Linked DNA regions of Homo sapiens. The protein of the gene in region 1 interacts with the protein of each later gene in a biochemical or structural test. Each region holds a gene or a part of one and is shown in the gene's direction. Other genes may lie near its edges. The genes, in order: SORBS2, PALLD, SYNJ1 and PTPN12.

Evidence for each region.
Region 2: the proteins of SORBS2 (region 1) and PALLD form a complex in vitro, tested with the Homo sapiens proteins (one study listed by BioGRID).
Region 3: the proteins of SORBS2 (region 1) and SYNJ1 form a complex in vitro, tested with the Homo sapiens proteins (one study listed by IntAct).
Region 4: the proteins of SORBS2 (region 1) and PTPN12 form a complex in vitro, tested with the Homo sapiens proteins (one study listed by BioGRID).

Annotation. Positions count from the first base shown.
Region 1 is NC_000004.12:185,809,171-185,816,100, reverse strand, and holds the start of SORBS2 (sorbin and SH3 domain-containing protein 2), read left to right. Parts: upstream 1-3,906; 5' UTR 3,907-4,437; intron 4,438-4,996; exon of another isoform or gene 4,997-5,163; intron 5,164-5,206; exon of another isoform or gene 5,207-5,353; intron 5,354-6,930. UniProt on the Homo sapiens protein: Adapter protein that plays a role in the assembling of signaling complexes, being a link between ABL kinases and actin cytoskeleton. Can form complex with ABL1 and CBL, thus promoting ubiquitination and degradation of ABL1.
Region 2 is NC_000004.12:168,892,036-168,899,060, forward strand, and holds part of PALLD (palladin), read left to right. Parts: intron 1-2,450; exon of another isoform or gene 2,451-2,543; coding exon 2,544-2,642; coding exon of another isoform or gene 2,643-2,730; intron 2,731-3,557; exon of another isoform or gene 3,558-3,717; intron 3,718-4,513; coding exon 4,514-4,564; intron 4,565-6,457; coding exon 6,458-6,679; intron 6,680-7,025. UniProt on the Homo sapiens protein: Cytoskeletal protein required for organization of normal actin cytoskeleton. Roles in establishing cell morphology, motility, cell adhesion and cell-extracellular matrix interactions in a variety of cell types.
Region 3 is NC_000021.9:32,725,005-32,732,942, reverse strand, and holds the start of SYNJ1 (synaptojanin-1), read left to right. Parts: upstream 1-4,997; intron 4,998-5,003; exon of another isoform or gene 5,004-5,106; intron 5,107-6,025; coding exon of another isoform or gene 6,026-6,047; coding exon 6,048-6,171; intron 6,172-7,938. UniProt on the Homo sapiens protein: Phosphatase that acts on various phosphoinositides, including phosphatidylinositol 4-phosphate, phosphatidylinositol (4,5)-bisphosphate and phosphatidylinositol (3,4,5)-trisphosphate. Has a role in clathrin-mediated endocytosis.
Region 4 is NC_000007.14:77,596,281-77,603,305, forward strand, and holds part of PTPN12 (tyrosine-protein phosphatase non-receptor type 12), read left to right. Parts: intron 1-1,561; coding exon 1,562-1,621; intron 1,622-4,383; coding exon 4,384-4,526; intron 4,527-7,025. UniProt on the Homo sapiens protein: Dephosphorylates a range of proteins, and thereby regulates cellular signaling cascades. Dephosphorylates cellular tyrosine kinases, such as ERBB2 and PTK2B/PYK2, and thereby regulates signaling via ERBB2 and PTK2B/PYK2.

The DNA of each region.
Region 1 (6,930 bases):
AAGTGCAAAATGTTTCCAATACTCTCTACCAGAGTAGCCTCCTCAGAGTAACAGTAATGGTAGTAATCACTTTAGTTACTCCATAACTTATTAACTTCTTTAGTTTCAACTCTGATAAATAGTTATGTCTTCATCAACTAATCTTAACCTTAACTCTGTGTCTATTCTAAACACTATTTTTATTCTCATTTTATTTCATTTTTTAAAACTTTGTATCTTGAAAACAAATCAAACTTATAGAAAAGTGCAAAGAATAGTAAAATAAACTGAAAATATTCTCATTTAAGATTCATCAGGTGTTAGCATTTTGCACATTTGTGTTTGCCTTCCATAGATGATACACAGATGATAGATAGGTAGATTGATTGATGTGTAGGTGTGCATACGGTATAACTTAAAATAGAAGCTAGATAGATAGATAGCTCTCTCTCTCTCTCCATATATATGTGTGTGCGTATACTATTAGAGCATATATATGTGTGTGTATATGTATTCTTTGATGATAATATATTTGTTTGAAAATCCTTCTAAACAAATATTTGTCTTAGAAAATCATATTATGGTGTGGTATTCTACGCTTTCATACTGAACATAATTTCTGAATGGAGATTTTCACACACATTCTGTATTTTCATTTCATAATAAAAACCAAAACAACTAGCAGTGTGAATTATAGGGTTCCCTTTATATGTTAGTGGATATCTTAATAACCTTTAATAATATAACAAATTTAATTATAATGTTTAAATATATATAAAAAATACCTTTATGACCACGTTGTTTAAAATTCCACACTAAGACAACAATCTCAATAGAGAAAACAGGCAAAAGCTATGAACAGAAAATTTACAGAAGAGGGAACCCTGAAAACCATCAACAATGAAAAGATGTTCAATTTGTCAGTAATTAGAGAAACACACATTCAAACAATAATGGGCCATTACTCTGCACCTATTATATTAGCAAAATTTTAAAACTAGATAATGCCAAGTGTCCTTGTCATAGCTGATTGGACCAAGGCACAGGGCAGCCCATGTATAAAGCTGCTGGCCACATAGGTGGTATCTCACTTGACTCAGAAAGATGGGCTGGAAAAATCAGATTTGTCTCTTGGAAATCTGTATCTAGCACATTTTAAAACAAACACGTTTGGAAGGAGAATAAACGTCAGGGACCTGGGCTAGGGCAGGGCCTGAGGTCAGAGCAATGCCAATGGGCCTCAGTGCACCAAGTTACAAGGGAGGGGCTTCGAGCAGGCGAAGGAGCCAAGAGCCTTGGAAGAACAGACTGGCAGCAGAGTGATGTGTGAAGGCCAGTAGAGATGCCGGGAGACGTGCCACGGGGCAAAGAGGGGAAAGGGATTCATCTCAGTTCCTGCCAGCTTCCCAGTTCCGGTTCAGTGCAAACTGGGGGACTTCCAGTTCTCTTTGGAGGAGCAGGAATTGGAGGTATAGGGGAGGAGGAGATACAAGAAGAAGGATGAAGGCCTTTGAAATTCCAAAGGAAAATGACTTCAGATATTTGTTTGTTTGTTTGTTTGTTTGTTTTGCTACTAAAAACAGAGACAGAGTCTCCCTCTGTTGCCAAGCTGGAATGCAGTCATGTGATCACAGCTCACTGCAGCCTCGACCTCCCAGGCTCAAACATTCCTCCTTCCTCAGCCTCCCGAGTAGCTGGGACCACAGGCGTGCACCACCATGCCTGGCTAATTGTTTGTTTGTTTGATTTTTTTTTTTTTTGTAGAGATGCAGTCTGTTGCCTAGACTGGTCTCAAATCCTGGGCTCAAGTGATCCACCTGCCTCAGCCTCCCAAAGTGCTGGGAATAAAGGTGTGAGCCACGGCCAGAGATTCTTATGCCTTGCCAACCAATCAATCAAGTGTGAGGGTATAAAGACATTTTCAGAGATACAATGAAAAGAAAAGCCACCCTAAAACATCAAGTGCACCTAGAGTTTTCTTGATATCCTTTTGTAACATGCCAGCATTTTGTCAAAATCACTGAAGTTCTTCTGAAGTGATGAGTCAACAAATGTGTGATGTTGAAAAGTAAATTAAAACACAGATTTCACACCAGCCAGTCATCAGTCCCTATTCATACAGTGTCGTAGGTCCTCATTTAGAGGCATTGAGAAATTAGAATATTCCAAGCATGGAGGGCAAAGAAGACATGGACCAGATTGGCTTCCAGAGAGTTGATAGAACAGTCTGGGAGTCAGACATAAAAGGAGAACTGCTAAGAAGTCCCAGGGCGTGACAAGGCCTGTAATAGCAGAGGTGGACCCCGGTACAGGGGAGTCGCAGAAGAGGTCGCTCAGACCCCACCTGGGAGAGTCATGAGTGAGGTGGTCCATTTGGGCCAGGTGTTGGAAGATAAAAGAGGAGGCAGATTGGGATGGAGGTTAAAGGTGCTGGGGCGAGGAGCAGTCAGATTGAGAAGGTTTTTAATAGTAGCAGCATCTGCAGGGCAAGGAAATGGTGTGTAATGCAGGATTCTGAAACGTGGGCAGTGAATAGTAGAATGGGAGGCTGAGGGCGAAGGCAGGGGCACGCTCAGCAACAGCAAATGCAAAATAACTTCAGGGAAGGGAACTTCAGTGAGAAAAGGTAGGCTGGCTGGAGGCGATCTGAAGCGGTGAGGACTCTCCCAAGCAGGAAAGCGCCACCCACTTGTCCTCCATGGATACGCTGACCCTGGGTGGCTCAGACCTACCTAATGTGAATCCGGTTGGGGAGGAAGGGGAGCGGGCATCCCCAAATCTACATCCACAGGATTCCTATGCAGTCAAAATTTGGGAATTAATACTGAAGGCAGGAGTGTTAACATGGGTAGGGAAACGCAATACTGACGGAATCCTAAATCAATGACTACTTAGCAAATAGAACATCTATATTTACAAGTCCAAAGTGTTAACATAACTATTTGAAACAGATTGCTAGAAACAAAAATAAATGGGACAGTGCCTTGGAAATATATCAGATAGAATATGACTGGTGATAGAGTCCTGAAAAAGAAGAAAAGCCTGGGGGTTCTGCAGAAGATTTACGTTGTTCATGGCATTAATCATGGTAGATTCCCAGAGGAGGTGAAATGTTATGGACGGGTGGAATGTGATCCATTTTACTGAGGAAGTAAAACTATTCTTGCCTTGAAGGTAATGTTTAAAGTCAAAGAATTTTTAATTAGGTGCGGATTTTTTAAAAAGAATTTTTAATTTACAAATAAGATTGAGTTAAAGAATCATTTTCTGCCGTAGAAGCAATAGGATTTTTTAAAAATTCTATTTTAAATTGCATAAAAAGCATCTTAAAGTAATCAGATAAGTTGAGCCATAAGTAAATGGATATTTAAAGATCTTATTAAAATAGTCTACCTGATTTAGTTATTATTCTGACCCTATATAGCAATTCACAGGGTTTTGTTTCAATTAAGTGGCTCTAAGATTATCATTTAAAAACAAAAAGTGTAACTCTCCCGTTTGCAGCTCTCTGCACTCATTCTATGACTGGAAGGTGGGGCTTGTTTTGACAATGCTTCCAGTTAGGGTCTCTTAAGTGATTTGCATGTTATTAACCTGGATAGCCACTAATAGGGCTTCACTTCCTCGATTTCATACATAGCCCCGGCTCATATAAAAAAGAGTTCTTCAGGAGAGCAGAAAAATCGGAGCACTTGCACTATCGGTGAAATGTGTAGAAAGATAACAGAAGCTACCCTCCTCAAAAAAATGATGAGTTTGATGAAAAGAAATTAACAAGCTGTGTGAGTGTGCTGCACATGATCAGCCATGCTTGCTAAGTCTGTCTGTTGGTTGTTGCTATGGCTACGAAAAGCCAGTGGAACCCAATGAGCTGTCTGCAGCAGAGCTGAGAGGACCAGCCATTTTACTTATGGAAAACAGTGTGGCATATTCTGCTGAGCTTCGCCCTGGAAGAAGCCTCTTTTATACATCTCTTCAGGGAAGAGAGAAGCAATGGGCATGTTAGTATACAATGATCACAGCCACGCAGGCCTGCAAGCTGCCTTTTGGACAGGCTGTTGACTGCCGTTCCAATTAGCTGATTGGAGAATGTGGAATGCAGAGTGATAATGCTGCATATCTGCTATCAGGCAGCAGCAAAGGTTTTTGTCTTGGGAAGGCAAGCTTTCCCTGCAATATTATCTCAGCAGCTCCCTAGCTGCTTACCCTGAAAACGAGGGATCCAAACGGAGGGTGTTGCACTCTGCTAACGCTGGTCCTGTGCGTGGCTGTGGCATATGAGCGGCAGGTCTGAAAAAGCAGGTGTGTGCTGGGACGGGCACTGGACTGGAACGCAGGCGGACGCTCTCGGGTTTACCTGCTTCCTGTTAACAGATTGTGGGCTCCCAGGGCATATGTCTGCACGCTGAGGCCGAGGCGGAGAAGGGGCTTCCTGAGCGTCCCAGTACACTGACAGAGGTAAGCTTTTTTGACCTTTTTGAAAGCACAGCATAAAAATAACTGGGGCAAAACTTAGCCTGAAAGATTTACGTTGATTGTGTGATTTGGATTTACCAAACAAACATACACAGACACATACACACACGCATACACACACATTTCTAGAAAATAGTATCAGAGACATAGAGTTGTTTCAGTGAATTTTGGTTCTAGCAATTGGAAGATAAAAAACATGACCGATATGCTTTGGGGTTTTAAAACCAATATTTACTGTTTGAGCAGACTACGATGGCTTGTTCTGAACCGTCCTCACAGCCAACAACATTTCTCGCTTGTGAACAATGGATTCTTTCGTGACCTGCACTTTGACTTGTATTCAGAGAACTACATGAAAAAGAACTACATGAGAAGCATTTCTTTTTAAGCCTCGTAAATGATTTATTTAACTCTTAACACAGCTATGTACACACTTAAATTGAAGAATTCTGTTCTCTATGTGGGTCATAATAGCCAGTGGATTTTGTACTTGCTTACCCTGGACTGAGTGTCTTGGTGTCCTGTTTGATTTAGTTGGGGTAGTTGTAAAGCAAACAGTGTAGGTATTGGAAGCCGTTCACACCTCCTTTCCGAGTATCTGCATGCCTTGCTGGCCCAGAGCACAAGACCCCCATTGTGCTCCCCCGGCTCAGAATCCAAGGAAAGAAAGGAAGCGAAGCCTCTGCATTGAGTTCTAGGACAGCTGAGGTATGTGGCAGTAAAACTTCTTTTCTTGCACAATTTTTCTCACAAGCAGATAGGTTTCAGAGATAAAGAGTGAAACCAAAAACACCGCACACCTCATCCAAATCTGCGCTCATACTTGCAGCAAATGTTTGCTGTCAGTTGCTTCATAATAACAGCACAGACCCCGAATTGCAGGAGGAATTGCCTGGTAGTGAGTATTTCCTTGATTTATAGTCTCTTAGGAACAAAGCTGTTACTGTGGATTGAAACTGGTCAGTCAAATCAAAATCCCTGGTAAGAAAATGACGGAGTAAGGATTAGATTCTGGTTCAGCAACATTTCAGCTTTACTCAAGTCAGTTCTTTGGTTGTTTTGTTACCAAAAATGTCAGATCACTTATAATACTATTGAAAATATTTAATAAAAATGTTTGGTCAAAAACTTTGAACAAAACCCCTATCTACAAAAGATGGAATCTACTGTGAAATTTAAAATAAGTAGTAACTGAGATCTACTTCTAAGAAGTATATTTTTATTTGCTACCTTTTTCCTCCAAAATCTGGATGACATGAGTCTCTTCAGAATTTTAAGTATAATTTTCACTGATAGATATGGGCAGGAACCGCCTGTTTCAGAGATGTAGCAATGTTCATAAGCCCTAAGATAAGAGAATGCTAAAGCAGTAGGAGAATAGTTTTCCAAACTTTTGTTCTAAATGTCAAAATAGTCAAAATATAAAGATAGAGACTAAGAATCTCAGTGGAGCCAAACATGTGCAAACGTTTGGTGATAAGTGTACGCCTATGCGGGTTGTAGGGGATAAAATGGTGAGGTGACGGCCTTGTACTTCATTATGTTTAACATTCAAAGGAAAGCTAAATGAACAGACTTAGTTCTGAGTCCAATTCTATGAGCAAAAATATCAGCTAAGTAAGGGATTCTATATGAGCTGAATGAAAGGTAGAGAAAATCTCTCTCCAATTTAATTTCCTTCAAAGCTTTACACTGCCAAAGGATTTCTTAGAATTGACACAGTGCAAAGACCTGCAGCAAGCACCTGATTTCCTATTAATTTTTCTTGGGGGAGCTTTTAGAAGAATGAGGTGTAGAAATATCCAGGGCACACCCGACTGCTGTGCCTGTTGCATTGATAGTGGCACCAAGTGAGACAAGACCCTTAGCCCACGGGAGGAATGGCACACACTTTATACCTGTGCAAGTTCTTTCCTATTTTAGTAACCTTTTAAGATGACATGCTATACACAGATGACCATTTTAAGTTCAATTCTGTACAGCGCATCTCCATAGTTAATAATTCAACAATTTTGAGAACCAGGTTCAGAGACATAATCTCTATCCTTCAAGACTTTGCACTTTCGCTTATGGCTATTTTTAGACCCTTATTTTCTGCCACTTTCCAACTCTTCTGCTGGCAATATCAAATATTTTGGAATTTCCAAAACATACTATATCAGATTTTTTTTTTTTTTTTTTTTTTTTTTTGCAAATGCAGTGCCCCCTGAAGAGTCATTTCCTTTAAATCTCCCCTGCAAGGACAGCTGCTTTCATACGCCCTTCAAGTCCAGCTAGACATCCCCCCTCACTGTCCCCCACCCTGCTTGGCTACATCTGAATCTTACTTCTGACTTTCTGTCTGCTGAACCATATTGCATTTGTCCCTGTTCACAGCCTTCCAGAGCTTTGCTGGCCTCTGATTCTAAAGTACTTTGTCCAGTGTCCAGAATTTTGCATTCAGACATTGTACTGGTAACCTCAGACTTCAATATT
Region 2 (7,025 bases), about 17 Mb from region 1:
AATAGATTTGGTAAAATATATAGATAAGATGTTTTCTCCACTGGATTTAAGTCTTTCCTCATCAGTTTTTGTTTGTTTTTTCATCTCTTTTGTTGATGCTATCCTTTTAAAATACTCTTTTCTTTTTAAAATACTATTTCCAGAATATTTTAAGGGGATGGGAAAAGCAAATCTAGAAAATAAGACTTACCAGGTAAAGGAGAGGAACCTTCTGTAGCTTTATTAAGGAATTGTCACTGGAAAAATTTGCCTGGCTCTTAAGTACAAGACAAGGATCTTTTTGTATAAAATCTCCCTTTCAGACACCTTTTTCAGAGTAGAAAGCTCTCTATAATTATGTTTTCTGAGAATTTTAATTATCAAACATTGATAAGTAAAACTGTGAGAACAGACCACACTTGAAAGCTGGAGAGCAGAGGAGGGGTGCTGAATGCTGATTTTAGTTTATTAGGGTATCTTAATCTGATTAAGAAAGATTAAAATTTCAATGAAGTTTTGTGTTAGTTACTCATTTCACTGAGTATAGAAGATTTTCACAAGAGGAAAATATTTTCTCCCTGAAATAAGTGATTGCATGTGTAAATGTACATACTCTGGAAGTTTTCCCTGGCTCTGTCAACTAAATCTTTTAAAAGATTAAAATAAATACATATGGGAACTTTTTCAAGCCAGGTAAGGCATCACTCCAGCTTTTTTTTTTTTCTTTTTGGCTGTCTATGTCAATGTTCCTTATGAACTAAGATTCTCTTGGTTAAGGTAAGACTTCCTTAAGCTATTGGTCAACCCACATTATATATATTGTATGTATATTTATATTCATCTGTTTAGCAGTGAATAACATTCACAGTAAGTTCCACAGGTATCCACACTTGAGAGCTTAAAATGACAAGTAAGGTTTCCCTTTTTAGAAAATGGGATTCTCAACCAACTTTTTCCTAATATTATATATCATTCTCTTTCTTATCTTTGGTGTCTGTAGACACGGGCTTTTATAGCCAGATGGCATAGTGACTTAGAAAAAAAACTGTGAAGTATATTTGGCTTCTAGTGGTAGCAGGTGCATTCTGGTGAAGGAATAGATATGAAATTGATATTTCTGCTTATAAGGAACAGAGTGAAAATCACTCCAGGCCTGCCTTTGATGTGTTACAATTCTCCGTGAAAAGATTAGGGAAGCTTTTTAAGAGATCAGGTATTTAAGACTCTCTTTGAAAATTGAATTCACTGATTTTTTAATAGGTGTGAGAAAATTAATTTAATAACATAGTGGACTCAGATGCTTCATGCCGCCCTCAGACTCCTACCTCTGCCTCTTCTTGTCCTCTGACCTTTCTTTATTAAGTGAAATAATTTGAACTGCAGGACTATTTGTCATTTGGCACTTGACTTGTTTCACTTCCCGGTTTCAGCTGGGATTGAGATCAGCAATTACTGGAAATTGTAAATTTACCCAACATATTTTCCTGATTAGAGAGCTTCCAATCAAATTTGCATTTATATTTAGAAGTTTGGAAGTTTATCTGAAATAATTTCTGTACATTTTTTAGATTCTGCCTTACCAATTATTCTCTATTTCTAATCAAACACTTGCTTATAAAATGCTCCCGATGAGGCAGGTGGTATCTGAAAGTTCCTTCCAAACCTGTAAGTCTAAGGCACTTTAGAATGAGTATTCAAGAGCAGGTATCACCCCAACAGTCACACAAAAATGCCGGCATTTCTTATGTATAAGAATGGCATAGGTAAAACGGTTTGGGCCAATTCCAAAGTGCTAGCTGCGAGATGCAAGAACACTACCACTTTCTTTGCCTGATGGGCAAGCAGTCTGCTTCTGGGTCAAGTCAATTGAGGCTGTTAGCTTTGGCAAGTGTCTTGTGTAATCCTGTTGCTAATTCAGCCATGTGCATCATTCTCTGTGGATTATAATAGTTGCCGCCAATCCCCTACATTACACAGCAGCCTGGGAAATGCTCTTAGAGGTAAGAACCCCATCACTGCCAGCTCATCCACATCTTCCTTTAGCTAAACATTTACTGAGCACATACTGTTAAATGACTGATAGAATTATTTCCATTAGCGATACCTGTTCTTTTTTTAGTCAGTTTATTCTCCTTTTGAGTATCTTTGTTTTTTCTTTCAGTCAGTATTAGAGCTGACTTGGGTGTTCTGAAGCTGATGGATGGCTATAAAAATAACATTTCTTTTAAATTGTATTTTGCTGTTTAAATATCTTTTTTTCCATGTTTTTCATTAAGGACATGACAAATCTTTTCTGTGTGGTTTCTTCCTTGTCGCTTATTGCTCACTTTAAATTTGTGCTGTACCAATTGGTGGCTCTCTGGATTAGGCCATTAGTACTAGAAAGGGAGGTAAAAAGGTAGAACAACTGAAGCAAGAAAAAGAAATATGCAGGTATCTGAAGCTGGAGAGAGAACACTTACAGAAAATCATGAAAGTGTGTTGTTTTTTACTCTTTTTCATAGGGCAGTACATATTTGTGATTTTTTTCTAATTTTGTATTTTTTGTGACTTACGTTGTTTAGAGGTTAACATACGAAGAAAGAATGGCTCGTCGACTGCTAGGTGCTGACAGTGCAACTGTCTTTAATATTCAGGAGCCAGAAGAGGAAACAGCTAATCAGGTACCATGTTGCTCTGGACTTCTTAGGGTAACATTTATTCTGTCCCCCTTTTCCATCTTCCTTATGGATACTGTTCTTGGGATGAGTTCTGTGGAAAGTAGAGGGCAAGTCACAGAAAAGCAGTATTAATATCATCAGTCAACCTCACAGCTAATTTTTATTGAGCACATACTATGTTAAGTGACTGACAGAATTCTTTCCATCAGTGATACCTGTTCTTTTTATTCTTCTTCTTGATTATTCTCCTTTCCAGTACATTTCCATTTTCCTATCCTAAGTTTTATGCAAAATAATTTTGTGTGGAGAAACACATTTTCGCCGACATTGTCTGAAATAACTAGTGAATATTTCCCATTAGAGTTGGACCTTGAACAACACGGGAGTTAGGGGGACCAACCCCAAGCACAGTTAAAAACCCACATATGGCCGGGCACAGTGGCTCATGCCTGTAATTGTAGCACTTTGGGAGGCTGAGGTGGGTGGATCACGAGGTCAGGAGATCGAGACCATCGTGGCCAACATGGTGAAACCCCGTCTCTACTAAAAATACAAAAATTAGCCAGGTGTGGTGACGCACACCTGTAGTCCCAGCTACTCGGGAAGCTGAGGCAGGAGAATTGCTTGAACCCGGGAGGTGGAGGTTGCAGTGAGCTGAGGTTGTACCACTGCACTCCAGCCTGGCAGCAGAGTGAGACTTCGTCTCCAAAACAAAACAAAACTAAAAACACATATACGACTTTTGACTCTTCAAAAACTTAACTAACAGCCTACTGTTGACCAGAAGCCTTACTGATAACAAAGAGTTGATTAACACGTATTCTGTATGTTATATGTATTATAGACTGTAGTCTTAAAGTAAGCTAGAGAAAAGAAAATGTTACAAAGAACATCTTAAGGAATAGAAGATACATTTACAATTCATTAAGTGGAAGTGGGTCATCATAAAGGTCTTCATCCTCATTGTCTTAAATTAGAGTGGTCTGAAGAGAAGAAGACAAGGGGTTGGTCTTGCTTATCTCAGGGGTTGCAGAAGCGGAAGAAAATCCATATATAAGTGGACCCATGCAGTTCAAACCTGTGTTGTTCAAAGATCAACTGTTTAGTCTTAATATCTAGTCAAAATAAAATAGAAAATATTATCTCTTTATCTTCTTTCACATATATACAGATGTTCTTCAACTTAGTATGGGGTTATGTCCTGATAAACTCATTATAAGTTGAAAATATTGTAAGTTGAAAGTGCATTTAAGGCGGGGCGCAGTGGCTTACGCCTGTGATCCCAGCACTTTGGGAGGCCAAGACCGGGTGGATTACCTGAGGTCAGGAGTTCAAGACCAGCCTGACCAACATGGTGAAACCCCGTCTCTACTGAAAATACAAAAATTAGCCGGGTGTGGTGGCGTGCGCCTGTAGTCCCAGCTACGCGGGAGGCTGAGACATGAGAATCGCTTGAACCCAGGAGACAGAGGTTACAGTGAGCCAAGATCGTGCCACTGCACTCCAGCCAGGTGACAGAGCGAGACTCCATCTCAAAAAAAAAAAAAAAAGTGCATTTAATACACCTAACCTACTGAACATCTTAGGTTAGCCTAGTCTATCTTAAATGTGCTCACAACACTTACATTAGCTTACAGTTGGGCAAAATCATCTAACACAAAGCCTATTTAAAATAAAGTATTGAATATCTCATGTGATTTATGGAGTCCTGTACCAAAAGTGAGAAGCAGAATGGTTGTGTGAGTACTCACAGCACCGTTACTACCAAACGCATATTGCTAGCACAAAAGTTTCACTTAAGGAAAATTAGAAATCTTGCTGCATTCTTATTATTTCTATTATTAGTCTTCACATCTTTTTTTCTACCATTACAGGACATTGGTTCTCCTCATGCTTCTGTAGGGAGTCCTCTGGATGGTCAAAAGGTTAAGCTTTTCACCTTTCTTCTCCTTCCAGTCTTTCTCTGTGTCTGTTTTCTTCTGTTCTTCCTGTTTTACGTGTGTTTCTATCTTTTCTGCCATATATTAATTATAAATGCTATGACCAGTGTCTGTTTCATTTAATATCAGATACACAAAATTACTGCAACATGAGTTTTCTTGTCATGTATTTACCAGCTTGAATTTATTTATTTATTTTTACTTTATGTATTTATTTATTTATTTATTTATTTTGAGATGGAGTTTCGCTCTTGTTGCCCAGGCTGGAGTGCAATGGTGTGATCTTGGCTCACTGCAACCTCTGTCTCCTGGGTTCAAGCGATTCTCCTGCCTCAGCCTCCCAAGTAGCTGGGATTACAAGTGCATGCCAACATGCCTGGCTAATTTTGTATTTTTAGCAGAGATGGGGTTTCACCATGTTGGTCAGGCTGGTCTCGAACTTCTGACCTCAGGTGATCCACCCGCCTTGGCTTCCCAAAGCGCTGGGAATACGGCATGAGCCACAGTGCCTGGCCTCTGACTTGAATTTAATTCTGTCATTAGTGGATACTCTGAACATTAAATCAAGAAAAATTTTTCATTTGTTATATATACCTTTCTATGGGGAACAAAAGTGCTAATTCTTCAAGGGATTAATTTGATAGTAATTAGATGAAGCAAAACAACTTGTGGTATAACTCTTGCAGTTTTATTCATACTGTTGTATTTCTTCCCTCAAACCAACAAACTTGTTTTTTAAACACTGAGTAACTTCTTTAAGAGAAAACATAGTTAAAGTTATCTTTCATTTAATATTAAATAGGGAATATTTACATAGACTCCCTTGTCTTCATTGCACTTTTTTGTTTTGGAGACAGGGTCTCACTCTTTTGCCCAGGCTTGAGTGCAGTGGCACAATCACGGCCCACTGCAGCCTCGACTTCCCAGGCTCAAGTGATCCTCCCACCTCAGCCTCCCAAGTAGCTGGGACAACAGGCATGTACCACCATGCCCAGCTACTGTTCTTTTTAAATTTTTTGTAGAGATGGGGTCTCACTTTGTTGCCCAAGCTGGTCTCAAACTCCTGGCCAGAAGCAATCCTCCCACCTCGGCCTTCCAAAGTGTTGGGAATTACAGGCATGAGCCACTGTACCTGGCCTTTAATGCACTTTGTAGGCAAGGAAATTGTAGGATCCACCGTAATCACCACAGGAATGTTGATGGGTTGTTTTTTTTTTTTAAAGCAAAATTTTGGCTAGACTGTCAGTCCTATTTTTTCTTCTAAAGATGGTGGGTTCCTAACAGCTGCAGAGCTGAGGAGGCGGCCCTTGCAAGGCAGGGATTGTTAGAGGTGGGGGAAAAAAAACAAACATTTTTTTTTTTCTATTATTCTTTTACTATTTTTTCTATTACCATTTTTTCTAGTACCATTTTTTCTATTATTCTTTTACTATAATTGTATATAATATGGCAGCTGCTTGCCACATGTACTATGTGGAGAGATGTACCACCCTGCATCAGCTTTTACCCTACAGAAGGAAATCAGCGTTCCATTATATTTTATTGTTATCAACAGTTTAGGAATACATAGCTTTGCTTTTGCCTTTTTCTTTCCTTCCCCTTGTTTCCCCTCGCCTCAGAGAAAAGAAGGAAAAAAAAATTCATCTTTCCTACCCCCCTCTTTTTGGATGATAGGACTTGAAGACAATCTGAAATACCACATAAACTCACTTCCAGATGTTTTTTGTTTCATATGCAATTGAATTGGGCTCAGACTGTGTTTTTAAGCTGTATGGTAAAAATATCACTGTCTTCTAGGGCCTTATTGGGGGGCAGGGAGAGACGTGACACTTTGTCAGAAGGGATTGAGTCTGCTAACTTAAACTTTCCTTGATTCAGGAATACAAAGTCTCCAGCTGTGAACAGAGACTCATCAGTGAAATAGAGTACAGGCTAGAAAGGTCTCCTGTGGATGAATCAGGTGATGAAGTTCAGTATGGAGATGTGCCTGTGGAAAATGGAATGGCACCATTCTTTGAGATGAAGCTGAAACATTACAAGATCTTTGAGGGAATGCCAGTAACTTTCACATGTAGAGTGGCTGGAAATCCAAAGCCAAAGGTGAGCTGGGAGATGGAGGCTTTTTAAGAGTCATTCTCTGAGGAAAGGTTTAGCTTCCAAAACATAGCATGCCAGTAGGAGAAAGAGATACAAATGATCTTTCTCAATACCCACGATATAAAGGGTTTTAAATATTCTTAAGTTCTGGGCCATCTTCAGGAGGCATTAGAAACCAAAAAAGGTGGTGGGGGGAGTGGAGTTTGGGTTTGAAGAATAGAGAATAACTAACAGGGAGCTCTTCACACACCTATATCATTTATTCCTCGTTGTTATTCCCAAATCACAAATAACTAAACTGAGTTCTGTGAAGTGAGTTTCCAAGGTCAGAGAGCTGGTGAGTGGCCAG
Region 3 (7,938 bases), on another chromosome or scaffold:
ATTAACTCCAAAATAGGTGACAAATGTTTTTGAGAAGGAAAGCTACTTTATTGAAACAACATAAACCACAGTCAAGAGTGACTAGTACTACTGTAGCCAATGATGTCGAAGTCTCACCATGTCCCTGTTCTTGCCACTGGTGTCCTCTTGCAAGTATTTGCTCCTCTGCCTGAGGGCTTTTCTTTGGCCTGTGCAACAGGCTGGAGTGTCCTGGAGATACTTCCTGGAACAGATCTCAGCCAAGGGAGAAAAGGAATTGGAGGCTAAATGCCCCAGTGTGTCAGTTAGGGTCCTCCTGGGAGCAGACACTGAGATGGTATTAAATGTACAGGAAGTTTATTGGGGGAATGCGTATAAGAGAAAACGGAGGGGAGCCTGGAGGAGGCTGGGAAAGCTGTCAGACAATGAGGCAGGCAGGTCTCACCTGTGTGAAGGAAGGAGGATGAAAGTCTTAGACATTGGTGCAGTTCTAAAGTTTCAGCAGGGCCAACTGGCAGCTCTGACAGGTACAACCAGGGGTCTCCTTGCTAGTATGAGATCTGAGAGACAGAATTTCCTGATGACCAAACCCAATTTGCTGATCTCTCAGGAAAGCAGGTATGGTCCACATTGCCTATAAGAGGTCTTCAGTTGAGTAGAGCCATAGTTGCCTGCAGTGGTAACATTACCAGCACCCAGAATTGGCCAAAAAATTGAAAATGCTAATAATCATCCTTGAAATCATGAAACTCTTACAAAAGTAGTCAAATGTTACAGAGCTGCAATATAAAATAGGAAACTGTAAGTTGCTACATTGTAGTGGTTGTTAATGGTTACAAGAGCTCTTCTTATCTCTAACATGGTAATACCCATGTAATAAAGGGAGTCTTGCCATTCACTGATTATGACAAAACATTTGATCTGTTGTTTCAAGTAAATGAAAATGAGAAAAACACTAGCACTACATGTAGGAAGAAAAAAACATATCTGAATGGGAGGTGTACTTTCATAAACGTTTTGAAGACTGCCCTCCAGAAATGAAACTGTCCATGGATACTGGGTTCACAGCTGCTAAAAGCTGCCTCAGACTGCCCAAACACAGGCTGAATATTGTTATATGGGATTGGTATCGACATGCAATGTAGACTGGTCCCTGGCCTGCTTTGGGACTCTAGCCCCCAGTAATTTGTACTGCGTTCCTGTCAGTCCTAACTCCAGCAGCGGCTTAAAGGATACAATCATTCAGTACAATGAAAATCCCTAGCACATGACTTCTTAGGCTCTTGCTAAATATCTTTAGGAAAATGTATGAGAAAAGTTTTGACAAAACACTGCAGAAACCATTTTAAGCTACTTTGCAAAAACATTTTGATCATGAAAGCTTACCTTTTACTTGTAACCTTAGTGACATTGCTGTTGCTTTGGGACCGAGAGCCAACTTGAACAACTTGAATACAGCTCTAATCTTGAAGGTTGAGCCCTGTTTCTGGCTCCGGCACTTTGATTTCCACAAGAATCTTTGTGTTTCATTAAAATAAACCCCCTTCACTTGATCTCTCTTCAGTTGGTCTCTTGTTCCAAATGAAAATACTTCATTTTTATCTATCACAAGTTTCCTGTTTTCTCTAGTGGCAATTTCCTGTCTATGATACCTGCAAGTTATTTTTCAATCTGTTTTTTTTCCACAGTGATTCTGCTCTCAAGCTTACTAGTTTTTTATTCATAGGATTTCCATTTTTCTAATTTAAAATCTTATCCTTCACTGGTTACAATGAATTTCTTTAAAGAAAAAGCTAATGCTATTTGTAACCTACTGTTGCGTTGCCTTTCAAGACCACTGTTTTCTGTTCGAGCCATTTCTTTCTCAGTCATTGGTGGGGAACATGGCCAGGTACAACTAGGGTCTGCAGATCCTGCTATACTAGGACCAGGATCTGCAGAGCACTATACTAATAACTCTGCAGATCCTGATCCTGATATAAAAGTTAGCTTAGCCTGTGTAACCTGAAAAGAAGCTGTTAAAGGTTACTGAATCAGACTGTTAATATTTCCCTGATCTTCCATGTTGTCTAGCATTTTTGACAAAAAAACAAAAAACAAAAAACGAGCACTACTACTATATTGCCACTATGTGATTTTTTTTTAACCTATGAAAATAACAATTCCATGTTTCAACATAATGAATTGCATATTTCAACTAGAGTTGCCCATAGGAGAAATAACTTGCTCACAAATCAACATCTAGAATTTAGGGTGTTTGTCTTTAATTTGTTCTATTGGATGTGATATCTGAAACACCTACCTGGGGCTGTCTCTCTCCTGATGGAAAGTCACATCAGCCTTGTGTTAATTTCTTGTAGCTGGTGTTACAAATTACCATGAACTGGGTGGTTTAAAACAACAAAAATGTATTTTCTTGCAGTTCTGGAGGCCAGAACCAACAGGGCCATGCTCCTTCCAAAGGCTCTAGGCTCAAATCCTTCCTTGCCTCTTCCAACTTCTGATGGCTGCTGACATAGCTTGGCTATGGCCACATCGCTCCAATCTCTGCTGCTGTCTTCACATCACTTTTTTTTCTCTCTCTCTCTCTCCTGTGTGCGTGTTTAATTTTCCTCTGCCTCCCTGTTATAAGGACACTTATGATTGCATCTAGGGCTCTAGGGCCCACCTGGATAATTGAAAATAATCTCAAGACCCTTAATCAAATCTGTAAACCTAAATTAACATTCACAGACAAGGATCTCTTTTTGAAGTAGCGTTTTTTAGCCTCCCACAGGCTCTTCATTGCACAGTTTCAAGGGTTGAGTTGGTGTCAGCCTGTCTCTGTAGGCCCTTAGGATCTCACTAAGAAGTTTGTGTATGCCACTTAACCTATATTTTAAGTCACCCTATCCCAAAGACATTTCAAGGTCAGTGAAAATTTTTCCAACTATTGTCAAATGCTGTAACAAAAGTAGAAGTATAAATAGGAAAGAGGGACAAGAAAAAGAAGATAGAACCAATCAAGCCACTAGTCAAATTGCCTTTATGTTTTTCAAACTCTGGGCATGTGTCTTTTTCATGACTAAAATGAGATGTGGAAAAGCTGTGGCCTTCTAACAAATCTAGGAATAAGTCTTGCTACCCCCCAGTTTAATTTGAAGAAAGAAGCTGGAATTCCAACCCAGAACCCAGAAATTTTGACCTAAATCTCCTCAGTCCAAAATAAAAAGGAACCAGGAATATGCAGAACACTTGTTCGTAAAAGAGCTTAGTACCCATGCTTCCCACTATAAGAAAGGAAGCATTTCTAGTGTAGCCTTACAGACACACAGGCATGGTGGAAAGGATTTTGGGCTTTGGAGTAAGCAAGTTTGGTTTCAGTACCCAACTCCTCTTGAAACTGAATGATTTCAGTTGTCATAAAAGGTACCTCTCGGCCGGGCGCGATGGCTCACGCCTGTTATCCCAGCACTTTGGGAGGCCGAGGCGGGTGGATCACGAGGTCAGGAGATCGAGACCATCCTGGCTAACACGGTGAAACCCTGTCTCTACTAAAAATACAAAAATTAGCCGGGCGTGGTGGTGGGCACCTGTAATCCCAGCTACTCGGGAGGCTGAGGCAGGAGAACGGCGTGAACCCGGGAGGCGGAGCTTGCAGTGAGCCGAGATCGCGCCACTGCACTCTAGCCTGGGCGGACAGAGCGAGACTCCGTCTCAAAAAAAAAAAGGTACTTCTCAAGCAACACATTTGATATCAACAGTTTTTTCTGAGACAGTACTGACATAGAAATCCCCTCTAGTTCTTAGAACTAAATCCAAGAATCTTTGTGTTTCTCCTTCATGACTTGAAGTGGCTTCTTTTCTAATAAATTTAGTTCCGTGTCCTGAAACCAGGGTGGGTACAGCTTCTCTAAAATGGACGAAAAAATCAAGTCACATGACAGGGCCTGAAGAGGGAAATGATTTTTGCAACATAACCAAATTTAAATCCTGCTTTGGCTGTTGAAAACCAGAAGGAGAAGAGGTAAAGAAAAAGCAAACGCAAGTGGAGACAGTTTGAGTGCTGGGTTCTTCAGGTTTTCAATTTCTTTCTGCCCTGTTGGCTTTGACTTCATTCTCTTTCTTATTAGGTCTATTCAATGGAAGCAGAAATCTATGGGACACGCTGATATTAGCCAGGAAGCACCATTTGTTGAAAAATGAGGATGAGATAAAAGGGTTAGGTGCCTTTAGTTACTAAATTCCACGGTTGGCAAAAGCTATTCATCCGTCGGTGACAACCACAGCTGTCGTGGCCTCCCTACGGCCATGTTTTGTTGGACTCAGCCTTGAGATCCTGGTTTGTGACGTCCCACTCTCCATCGTATACACCTAAGCACTCTTCGATAGAACCCTGTGAGCTCCAGAACACACAAGAAAAGGCACCGAACAGAACTGTCCCAGAGCAGGCATTAGTTTTTCTTCTGCTACCTATCCAGACACTCAGACTAGGAACTCGGTGCCGTTTGCTGGGCTGTCGACACCATGGACAGCTCTTCAGGCGCCACCTGGTTGGCTCGGCGAGCCGACCGTCCCGAGCCCTTCCTCCTCTCCCGTCAGGCCCGTGGGGGCGGCGGGGTTGGTCCTGACGCCCAGCTTGGGGAGCAGCAATACGCAGCCCCCCAAGCTTTTCTCCGGAGTCCCTCCCCGGCGCTCACGCTCTGAAGAGCCCACGCAAAAGGACCAAGGAGGCCAGATCTTCCCTCTCCCTGCACCCCCGGCGGTGGGATCGCAGCTCTGCCTGGGGGCGGCCGCAGGAGGCAAAGGTAGCTGGAGACTGAGGCTGGGGCCGCCCGCGGGTGCCAGGCCCAGCCGGTCGGCGCAGAGTGGGCGTGGTCTCCCTCCTGATGCCCCGCCCCTTCCCTCGCGCGGGGCGGATCTTCCGCCCCCGGCCGCGGCGCAATGCGGAAGAGATGGGCCTGCTGGAGCGGAAGTGACGCTCCCGGCGGCTGTGGCGGCGGCTGCGGGAGAAGGAGGAGGAGGAGCCGGAGGAAGAGGTGAGCAAGCCGGCGGGGGGCGGGGAGCTGCTGCGGCCAGACCCACGGGCAGCCGGGCGGGCGGACGCCTCCAAGACCAGTCTCTGCCTCCGCAGCGTCAGCGGGAGCGGTGAGGGGCGACCGCGAGCAGCCGGGGTGCGGGAGGACGGGCGGGGTTGTGAGCAGACCACTGGTTGTGCGGGGTGCCGCGTCAGGCTGGGGGCTGTGGTGACAGCGGCTGTCAGCCCGCCCGCGGGAACGAACCGAATCCGCCTGGGCGCCGGGGTATCTCTTCTGGCGCATAAATGGAGGGTTTGGGCTGCTCGGCTCTTCCGTCTCTCCGAGAAGGAGCCGCTTTCCCGGGCAGTCGACTGCCCGGGACCCCCGAGGAGCCCCAGTCGGGTCGGTGCCCCGAGTCGTGACTCTTCCCGGGTGGCCATTCGTATTTATCGGCCCCGCCTGCCGTCCCCCCAGCCGGCGGTAGCCCGGGGCAGGAGAGGCGGCGGTAACCTGTGCCTTTTCCCTTGCCCTTCATCGCCACCCCCGGGAGAGCCTGTCGCGTGGGATAATCCTTTTCCTTCTCCTGCCCCCTAAGGAGCTTTGAACCAGCCTTGTCACCCTTCCCTCCCACCTCCGCTCCTTTCACCTCGAAGGAACTGCTTGAAGTTTCCAAATAGGTTCCCTTTCAACGTAGTGACAGATCTTGAAGCAGGAAGCTGATAAACAGCTCCGGACGAAATACGCTCAAAATTTTTCCTTTCAGTAAGCATAAATTAAACGGGAAACTCAACCAGACCGTTGATTGACTTACAGTGCTAAAACCTTGTCTTGCCTTGGTATGAGAATTGATAGCTTTTCCTCTTGCTTTTTGGTAAAATTAAGTGACGACTTATCTTTTGGAAAAAGCCATTTTCTCCCAGAGCTGTCTGTTTTTTCCCACCCCAACCCCCCATCAAAACCTGGCGGGGAGGGACTTTTGGATGCTTTGCAGTCCTTGCTGCAGAAGGAAACATCAGCTTCATTTGCTTTGCTTTGCTTGGTTTTCGCAGGGCTGCCTCCGAAGAAAGGAGAATGGCGTTCAGTAAAGGATTCCGGATCTATCACAAATTGGATCCCCCACCTTTCAGCCTCATAGTGGAAACTAGGCATAAGGAAGAATGTCTCATGTTCGAGTCTGGGGCTGTCGCTGTGCTCTGTAAGTCATCTGTTAGAGCCCAATTTGTCATGGTCTCTGTTTTGATTTGAAACAATTCAGATGCAACCATTTTTTAGAAAAGAGCCCGACAACCCTTTCACTGTATTTCCTCTAGCAGATTATGCTTGTATTTCCTTTTAATCAAACTTATTTTCCTGCAAACTTTTTGTTAACAGGTTTTTGTTGAGGGGGTGCAGGGAGATGCAGGTTTTGGTTGCAGGATTTTGCTTTCTTGGGTTCTGCTGCTGCTTCTAAAAGTAAATGTTTTTTCCAAAGAAATATTGTTTCAGTTTGTATCATGTATCACATAAACCCATACAGTGTCTTGCTTGACATATTTACTGGTAGGTCAGTTATAGTAGTAGGTATTATCTAATATTATCCAATATTGTTGGAGTATTTCTGTTATGGCCGTTGTGTTTTCATTAAGGGAATTGTAAACAACCTCTAGATTTTCATGTGAGATACATGATTGATTTTGTATTATTTTTAAAAGTATTTTGATAGTCTAATTTAAAGAAAAGGACTATTGTACCACAAGAAAAATAGATTAGTAATGTTTGAGTTATTTTAGGGGCAGATGGATGAAATTAAAATTAATTTGGATACTGGGTCTTTCTTAATGTAAGATATGCCAGGTGTGGGGGCTCACGCCTGTAGTCCCAGCACTTTGGGAGGCCAAGGGGGGCTGATCGCTTGAGGCGGGGAGTTTGAGACCAGTCTGGGCAGCGTGGTGAAACCCTTTCTGTACAAAAAATACAAAAAGTAGTTCGGCTCCGTCGTGTGCCCTTTAGTCCCCGCTACTTGGGAGGCTGAGGTGGGCGGATTGATTGAGTCTGGAAGGTCGAGACTGCAGTGAGCCTTGATCTCGCCACTGCGCTCCAGCTTGGGCAACACAGTGAGACCCTGTTTCAAAAATTAAAAAGAAAAAAAAGTATATGATTATATATACACATATATATGATTTAGGCAAATAATCCTAGTGTTGGGATTAGTTTAGTTACTGATTATATCTTTATAAATTAAAAATAGTGTTTGAAAGGCATACTTACAAATATAAGCCCTTAAATATCTTAAACTACTAAGCTTTCTCCAGCCTCAATAAATGAAGAGCATAAGACCTCACTCTTTGCATGTAGAATATTAATGTCAGTTAAAGTGTTAACTTGACTAAATAGTATAATTGCATCTTGATGGGGAAAAAGATAGTGACATAATGAAAAGTCTTAAGCAAAGAACAGTATATAAGAAATATATATTTGGTACATATATTTTTTGAATGAAGGAGAAGGGGCTCTAGGTCTTCCAAGAAATAAGTATAAATAATATTGGCTATACTCAATCAGTATGGACTTAATTGCTTCAAGTTGTTTTTTGTATTTAAACTATACCTTGGTACAGTATTAATTTCCATTGCATATATTTTTTACTACAAGTGGAATTCTTATACTGATGAATTCTGAATTAAAATATTGTGGGGGTTGGGTGGGGCGAATGTTTGTTTTTGTATGGGAAGCATTTTTCAGCTGCTTGTGTTTTTTGGTGACGTTACCTGACTTACTAATCTTGTATAAATTCTAAATGTTTCTTTAATTATGATTACTCATAATAGCAAGTCAAATGTTCAGCTACAAACTGTGTATTACTTATAGTTTTTAGAATTATTGCTACACTTTACTCCAAGGTTAGGAAACCTAAGAATAATAATATTTCCAAAACCTCCAGCAGCCGTCTTTTATGCCAAATAATGGTTTGTTTTTACCAAAA
Region 4 (7,025 bases), on another chromosome or scaffold:
TAGTTTAGTAGGTAACTTGATTCCCAAATTCACTTCTCTTATTTGTACATATTGTTTGGGTCTATCTGTTAGGAGACTTTATCTGATAGGAGACTTCATTTTAAGGTTTTTAAAAAAATTTTTTTTTTAGTGTTTTTTGTTTTGAGACAGGGTCTCACTGTGTCACCCAGACTGGAATGCAGCGACGTGATCGCAGCTCACTATATAGCCTTGGCCTCACTGCTGGGCTTAGTGATCCACCTACCTCAGCCTCCCAAGTAGCTGAGAGCACAGGCTTACGCCTCAATGTCCAGCTAGTTTTTGTATTTTTTTGTAGAGACAGGGTTCTGCTATATTGTTCAGGCTGGTCTTGAACCCCTAGGCTAAAGCGATCCGTCCACCTCAGCCTCTCAAACTACTGGCATTACAGGTGTGAGCCACTGCCTAACTTTTTCAAGACTATTTTTTTTAGAGCAGTTTTAGGTTTACAGCAAAATTGAGAGGAAGGTACAGAGATTTCTTATATACACCCTGTCCCCACACATGTAGCCCTCATTATCAACATTCCCTACCAGAGCAGTCTCTTTGTTACAATTCACAAACCTACATTGACAAGTCATTATCACCAAGAGTTCACATTTTACATTAGGGTTCATTCTTGGTGCTATACATTCTGTGGGTTTGAAGAAATATATGATGACGTGTATCCACCATTGTGGTATCATACAGAATAGTGTCATTGCTCTAAAAGTCCTGTGCTCCACCTATTCATTCATCTCACCCCCTTCCCAACCCTAGGTAGTCATTATTTTTACTGTCTCCATAGTTTTGCCTTTTTCAGAAGTCATATAGTTTGTTTTTGTTTGTTTGTTTGTTTGTTTTGAGACGGAGTCTTGCTCTGTCGCCCAGGCTGGAGTGCGGTGGCACTATCTCAGCTCACTATAACCTCTGCCTCCTGGGTTCAAGCAATTCTACTGCCTCAACCTCCTGAGTAGCTGGGATTACAGGTGCGCGCCACCACACACAGCTAAGTTTTGTATTTTCGTAGAGATGGGGTTTTACCATGTTGGCCAGGCTGGTCTCGAACTCCTGACCTCAAGTGATCCACCTGCCTCAGCCTCCTGAAGTGCTGGAATTACAGGCATGAGCCACTGCTCCCAGCTCAGAAGTCATATAGTTTGAATCATACAGTATGTAGCCTTTTCAGATTGGCTTATTTCACTTAGTAATGTGCATTTAGGGTTCATCCATGTCTTTTCATGGCTTACTAGCTCTTTTTTTCCTTTTATTATTTTTAATTGACACATAGTATCTATACTTATTAATGGGGTACATGTGATTTTGGTACATGTATGTGTAATTTAAAATGTGGAGTGACTAAATCAGGATAATTAGCATGTCTATCACTTCAAACATTTCAAATGTTTGATGACTTTTAGAATTTTTTTATAATTATCAGGTACATCTGGAATTTTAAAGATTAATTTTATATTGTGGACTTTGATACAAGTATTTTATTTGTTTTGATGTGTCTTTTTGTTTTAACGTTTTCACTGACTTAGAAATGTTTCTCTTTATTTAGGAGGATGAACAAGCAAGAACAGACTACTTCATCAGGACACTCTTACTTGAATTTCAAAATGTAGGTACTTACCATTTATAGACTATCTGTAAGAATAGTTTTCAGGCTGGGTGCAGTGGCTCATGCCTGTAATCCCAACACTTTGGGAGGCTGAAGTGGGAGGGTGACTTGAGTCCAGGGGTTCAAGACTAGCCTGGGCAACATAGTGAGATCTTGTGTCTACAAAAAGAAAAAAGTTAGCCGGGCATGGTGGCATGTGCCCATAGTCCCACTCACTCAGAAGGCTGAGCCCGGGAGGTTGAGGCTGCAGTGAGCCATGATTGTGCCACTGCACTCCAGCCTGGGCAACAGAGGGAGACTCTCAAAAATGGTTTTGAGAATAGAGAATAGTTTTCAAAGAGAAGACATAGAGAGGGAGGGGAGCGTGGGCTGAAAAACCACCTATTGGGTAGTATGCTCACTCCTTTGGTAAGGATCATTTGTATTCCAGACCTCAGCATTATACAATACACCCATGTAAGCTGCACATGTACCCCTTAATCCAAAATAAAAGTTGAGGCCAGGTATGGTGGCTCACTCCTGTAATCCCCAACACTTTGGGTGGCTGAGGTGGGTTGGTCACTTGAGGCCAGGAGTTCAAGACCAGCCTGGCCAACACGGCGAAGCCCCATCTCTACTAAAAAATACTAAAATTAGCTGGGCATGGTGGTGCACACCTATAATCCCAGCTACTCAGGAGGCTGAGGCACTTGAATTGCTTGAGCCTGGGAGACAGAGGTTGCAATAAGCCGAGATGGTGCCACTGCACTCTAGCCTGGGCAACAGAGCAAGACTCTGTCTCAAAAAATAAAATAAAAAATAAAATAAATGTTTTAAAAATAGAAAATATAATACTACTACCTAAATGTTTTATTTGGTAAAATGGGTTTGCTAGAAAATTATTTTGCTTTATATCTGCAAAATGCAAATAATATATATAATATATATTATTATTTTGCTTTATATCTGCTTTATAGTTTTTTGTAAGTAAAAAAAGTAACAGCAATTTTTATTTTTAAAGCATGTGAAGTTAGTTTTTGTCTTTGCAAACTAATCAACTTTTAGCTACTAAAAAAATAAAACAAGCTATATAAATAGTATACTATGTTATTTAACATAATTAATGAAATTTGGTAATTTTTTAGTTACGAAGATGAAATGAGAGTGTAATATTTAGTCTTGACATTTATGCTTATCACATTACATAAAAAGTAATATTAATTATAACATACCCTAAATTTGTTAAATTTGGAATAGTTATACCTTCTTTGCAGCAAATATTTTTATTCTATTGCAGTAAGCAGGTTATTGCATTGTTTATATAATTATTACCCTGTTTTACTGGTTTACAATTTGTTAAAGAAAAGTCACTATCAAAGCTAAGTCTTCATTTAGATATATATTGTTTTTAGTTGAAACCCCCCACAGCGCCCCGACTTTTTTTTTTTTTTTTTTGGCAACAGGGTCTCACTATATATTGCCCAGGCTGGACTCAAACTCCTGAGCTCAAGCAGTCCTCCCATCTCCACCTTCCTAGTATCTGAGACTATAGGGATGAGCCACCAAACCCAGCTAAATTTTTTATAGTTTATAGAGATGAAGTCTTGCCATGTTGCTCAGGCTGCTGTCAAATTCCTGGCCTTGAGTGATCTTGCCTTTTGCATTGGCCACCCAAAGTGTTGGGATTACAGATGTGAGCCACTGAATCTGGACTGGTTGCTAATTTTTTAATCTACGGTAATAATAATAAGTACCTTAATGAATTTCTGTGGTAGATCAGGCATCTTAATTCTGCTAACTGCATCATATCCAGATACTGTTACGTCTGTTGCACATAGATGAAGATACAGAAGCTTTAAGAAGTTAAATAGCTTACCTGAAGTTATTTAGGAAATGGCCAAAGTAGGAATTTGAGTATGGTTTGCTTAGATTCCGAGTATTGCTCTTTCTGTTAAACACCTGCAATAACCATTCTCAAAACATTTGACATCAGTACTCCTTTACATTCTTCAAAGTTATTGAGGATCCCAAAGTTTTTGTTTCTGGGGGTTGTATCTTTCAGTATATACTATATTTGAAATTAAAACTGAGAAATTTTTAAAAAACATGAATACATAAGCATATATTGTATTGGCTGTTAAAGAATAAGGCACGTAACATTTTAGTATTATTCTGAGAATTATTTAAAGCTCATAGACTCCCTCAAAAGGGTTGAGGGGAGGGGGTACCCAGACCGTATATTGAGAACCACTAATCTGTAAGAAGACTAGTGAGTTTGGCATTGGACAAATTCATCTCTCCATTCTTTTTCAGTTTAATGTTCTGTTAGTCTTCTGATTACAATGAATACTACTCTAACCTACTCTAACATGGTGCTTACGGTATATTGCTCATCCATTTAATAGTGTAGATTAGTTAAATAGTATATATAGTGTTATGTTTACAGTACATGCTCTGGAAGTAGAACTGCCTGGTTTAGAGCCCACACTTGTCACTTCTTAGGAAAGTTTGGGCAAGTTATTTTATCTGTATATCTCAGTTATAAAATGAGGATGGTATTAACAGTACTTTCCTCATGGAAATTAAATTGTTACATGTGAAGCCCTTAGGTATTTGGCATGTGTTTAACAGTCAATAAGTGTTGGCTATTATTTATTTGGGTTTTTTTAAAAGCAGTGCTAAATGCCACACAAATTTCTTAGAAATGGCAGTTTAAATGAGCTGTGCAACTTTAAACTTTGCAAAGTATTTTCATAATTGTTGACTTTCTGTTTTTCTTGAAGGAATCTCGTAGGCTGTATCAGTTTCATTATGTGAACTGGCCAGACCATGATGTTCCTTCATCATTTGATTCTATTCTGGACATGATAAGCTTAATGAGGAAATATCAAGAACATGAAGATGTTCCTATTTGTATTCATTGCAGGTACAAAAGAATTTCCCAAGTTTATAAATACATTATTTAAGTTTGATGTTACACAAGGTTTTATTTCTGCATTAATATGTTAGTAATCTTGAATTTCTCCTAGCCTTGATACAATGTTTGGGACTAGGGCCTTGTAAGTTGATGTGGTCTCATTTGGTTGACAGACCGTTTAGAGTATTGTTGCATTAAAACACAGGATCATCTATTTGAAAATAGTATTCACATGGTGGGAAGCTATAGAACATACTCTTTTTACTGTTCACTGATTAGAGCATATAATCTCAGATCCTCATCATACTCTACTTTCTAAAGTCAGTATGGTAGTATTTTCTTTTAATCAATTTCCCTGAAACAATGACCAAGCAATTTTCATTCCTGATAAACACTGACATGAGATTTTTAAAAACAGGATATTGCTCTGATGCCCAGGTTGGAGTGCAGTGGCACAATCATAGCTTACTGTAAACTCAAACTCCTGGCCTGACGTGATCCTTCTGCCTCAGCTTCCCAAGTAGCTAGGACTACAGGCATGTGCTACCACACTGAACTAATTTTTTTTAATTAAAAAAAATTTTTTTTAAGAGACCAAGTCTTGCTCTGTTGCCCAGGCTGATCCGAACTCCTGTCCTCAAGTGATTCTCCCACTTTGCTCTCCCAGAGTCTTGGGCTTACAGGCGTGAGCCACTACGCCTGGCAACATGACTTTCTTTTTTTAATATATGTAAGATGTACATACGTAGGTCTTATTGATCTAAGATATCATCAATTCTAAGACACACCATTATTATATATATTAACAGTAAAAAAATCACTGCCAATTATAAGGGGACAATGTCATTTGTAAGAAGCCATTGGTGGTAAGATACATACCAATCTCAGAGCTGTTACATTGAGATGAAAAAGTGTGTTTTAGTTTGATGAAAAACTAAATGCTGTTTTTATTCTTGGGGAACATCAGTTTCCACGTTTGCACCACTTCCTGTCATATCATGAAATTTTATAATTTATAGCTACTGAAAAATTTAAAGCCGGAAGCAAGCATTCTTGTAGTAAAGTAATAAAAACTATTGATACACATTTACTAGACATTTTTATTATGTTTTATAGTAGATTACTTCATTATAAGGATTACATAAAATTCAATGATTACTGACCTAGTTAAGCTACCTCTGAATGTGAAAGGACAAGTATAGGTGCACCTACTTTAAATTGCACAATATAAATCTTTTCATTTATTCAAATAATATTTGAAGTTCAGTTAGGTTTTGCAAAATTACTCGTTTGGATGTGTTAAGAAATCATGTAAACTCTTCCTTTGACTTTGGGGGAATGAACATGAGATTTGTTTATTCTTGGGGGGCAGTTAATTTTGTATTCTAGAAGGGGGGTTAATGTATAATATATTTTAGCTAAGAGAAATCAGTTTAAGATAACCAACTTTTCTTAATCTAACATTTTGGCTTATTTCTGTCATCTGGTCATTCTCATACAAATAATACAAAGCTAAATATACATAATACATATGCACATATATGTATATGTATACATTATATGTAATACATAAAACAAAGCTAAATTTGTATTATGGATTTAGGAGTGTAATGGAAAATACCCCTTTAAGAGGAAAAGCACAAAACTGAATTAGTCAAGAAAATAATAAATGTTTGCAATAAGTGTCATGACCGGGTATAGTGGCTCAGTGCTTTGGGAGGCCGAGGCAGGATGATTGCTTGAGCCCAGAACTTTGAGGCTGCAGTAGACACCAATTACACTACTGCACTCCAGCCTGGGTGACATAGTAGACCCTATCTTTTAAAAAAAAAAAAAGAATATAGGTATCATTATAATATGGGTGATACAGGATATTTTGAAACCTAATTTTTGGAATTTCATTATATAGGTATGGGTTTCTACATAGTAGAAGCTACTTGAATCCTTAGACAGTTTTTCTACTCTGAATTTTTAGTTTACATTAGATTCTTCTAAAGGCCTTACAGTCATAGTACTTACTTCATAAGACTGCTATCAATTTATTCCTCTAAGGGACTTGTTATCTGCATTCACATTTGTTATAAAAAGTAAATGAGATTTTTCAAACTTAAGAGATTTATTTTTTATTATTTACATAGTTAAAATATTTTTTCAGTGGAGTTGAAGCATTGAAGATAGTTTTCTTATTCACTTGGTTTGACCGTAATGCTCATAATTAACGAAGTAAAAGGGCTACTTTTTATTCATGGGCCAGGAAAGTAACTTGCTGGTGGAGATGTGGGAATCAGTTAACAACTTGGTTCATTAAAACTATTTTTTTCTGTGGTTAATTCAGTGGTTAGTTGACCATTTAATTAAGTAGGATTGACCAGTTAAAAATAAACAATATGTTTAATTATAGAATTAAAAGATAAAGAAATTGCTTTCACTTTGACTTCTTATAAGTTAGTTAAAATAATTTCCTGTTCAATCATAAATCCATTTGTATAGGAAGGCTTTTCATCAAAA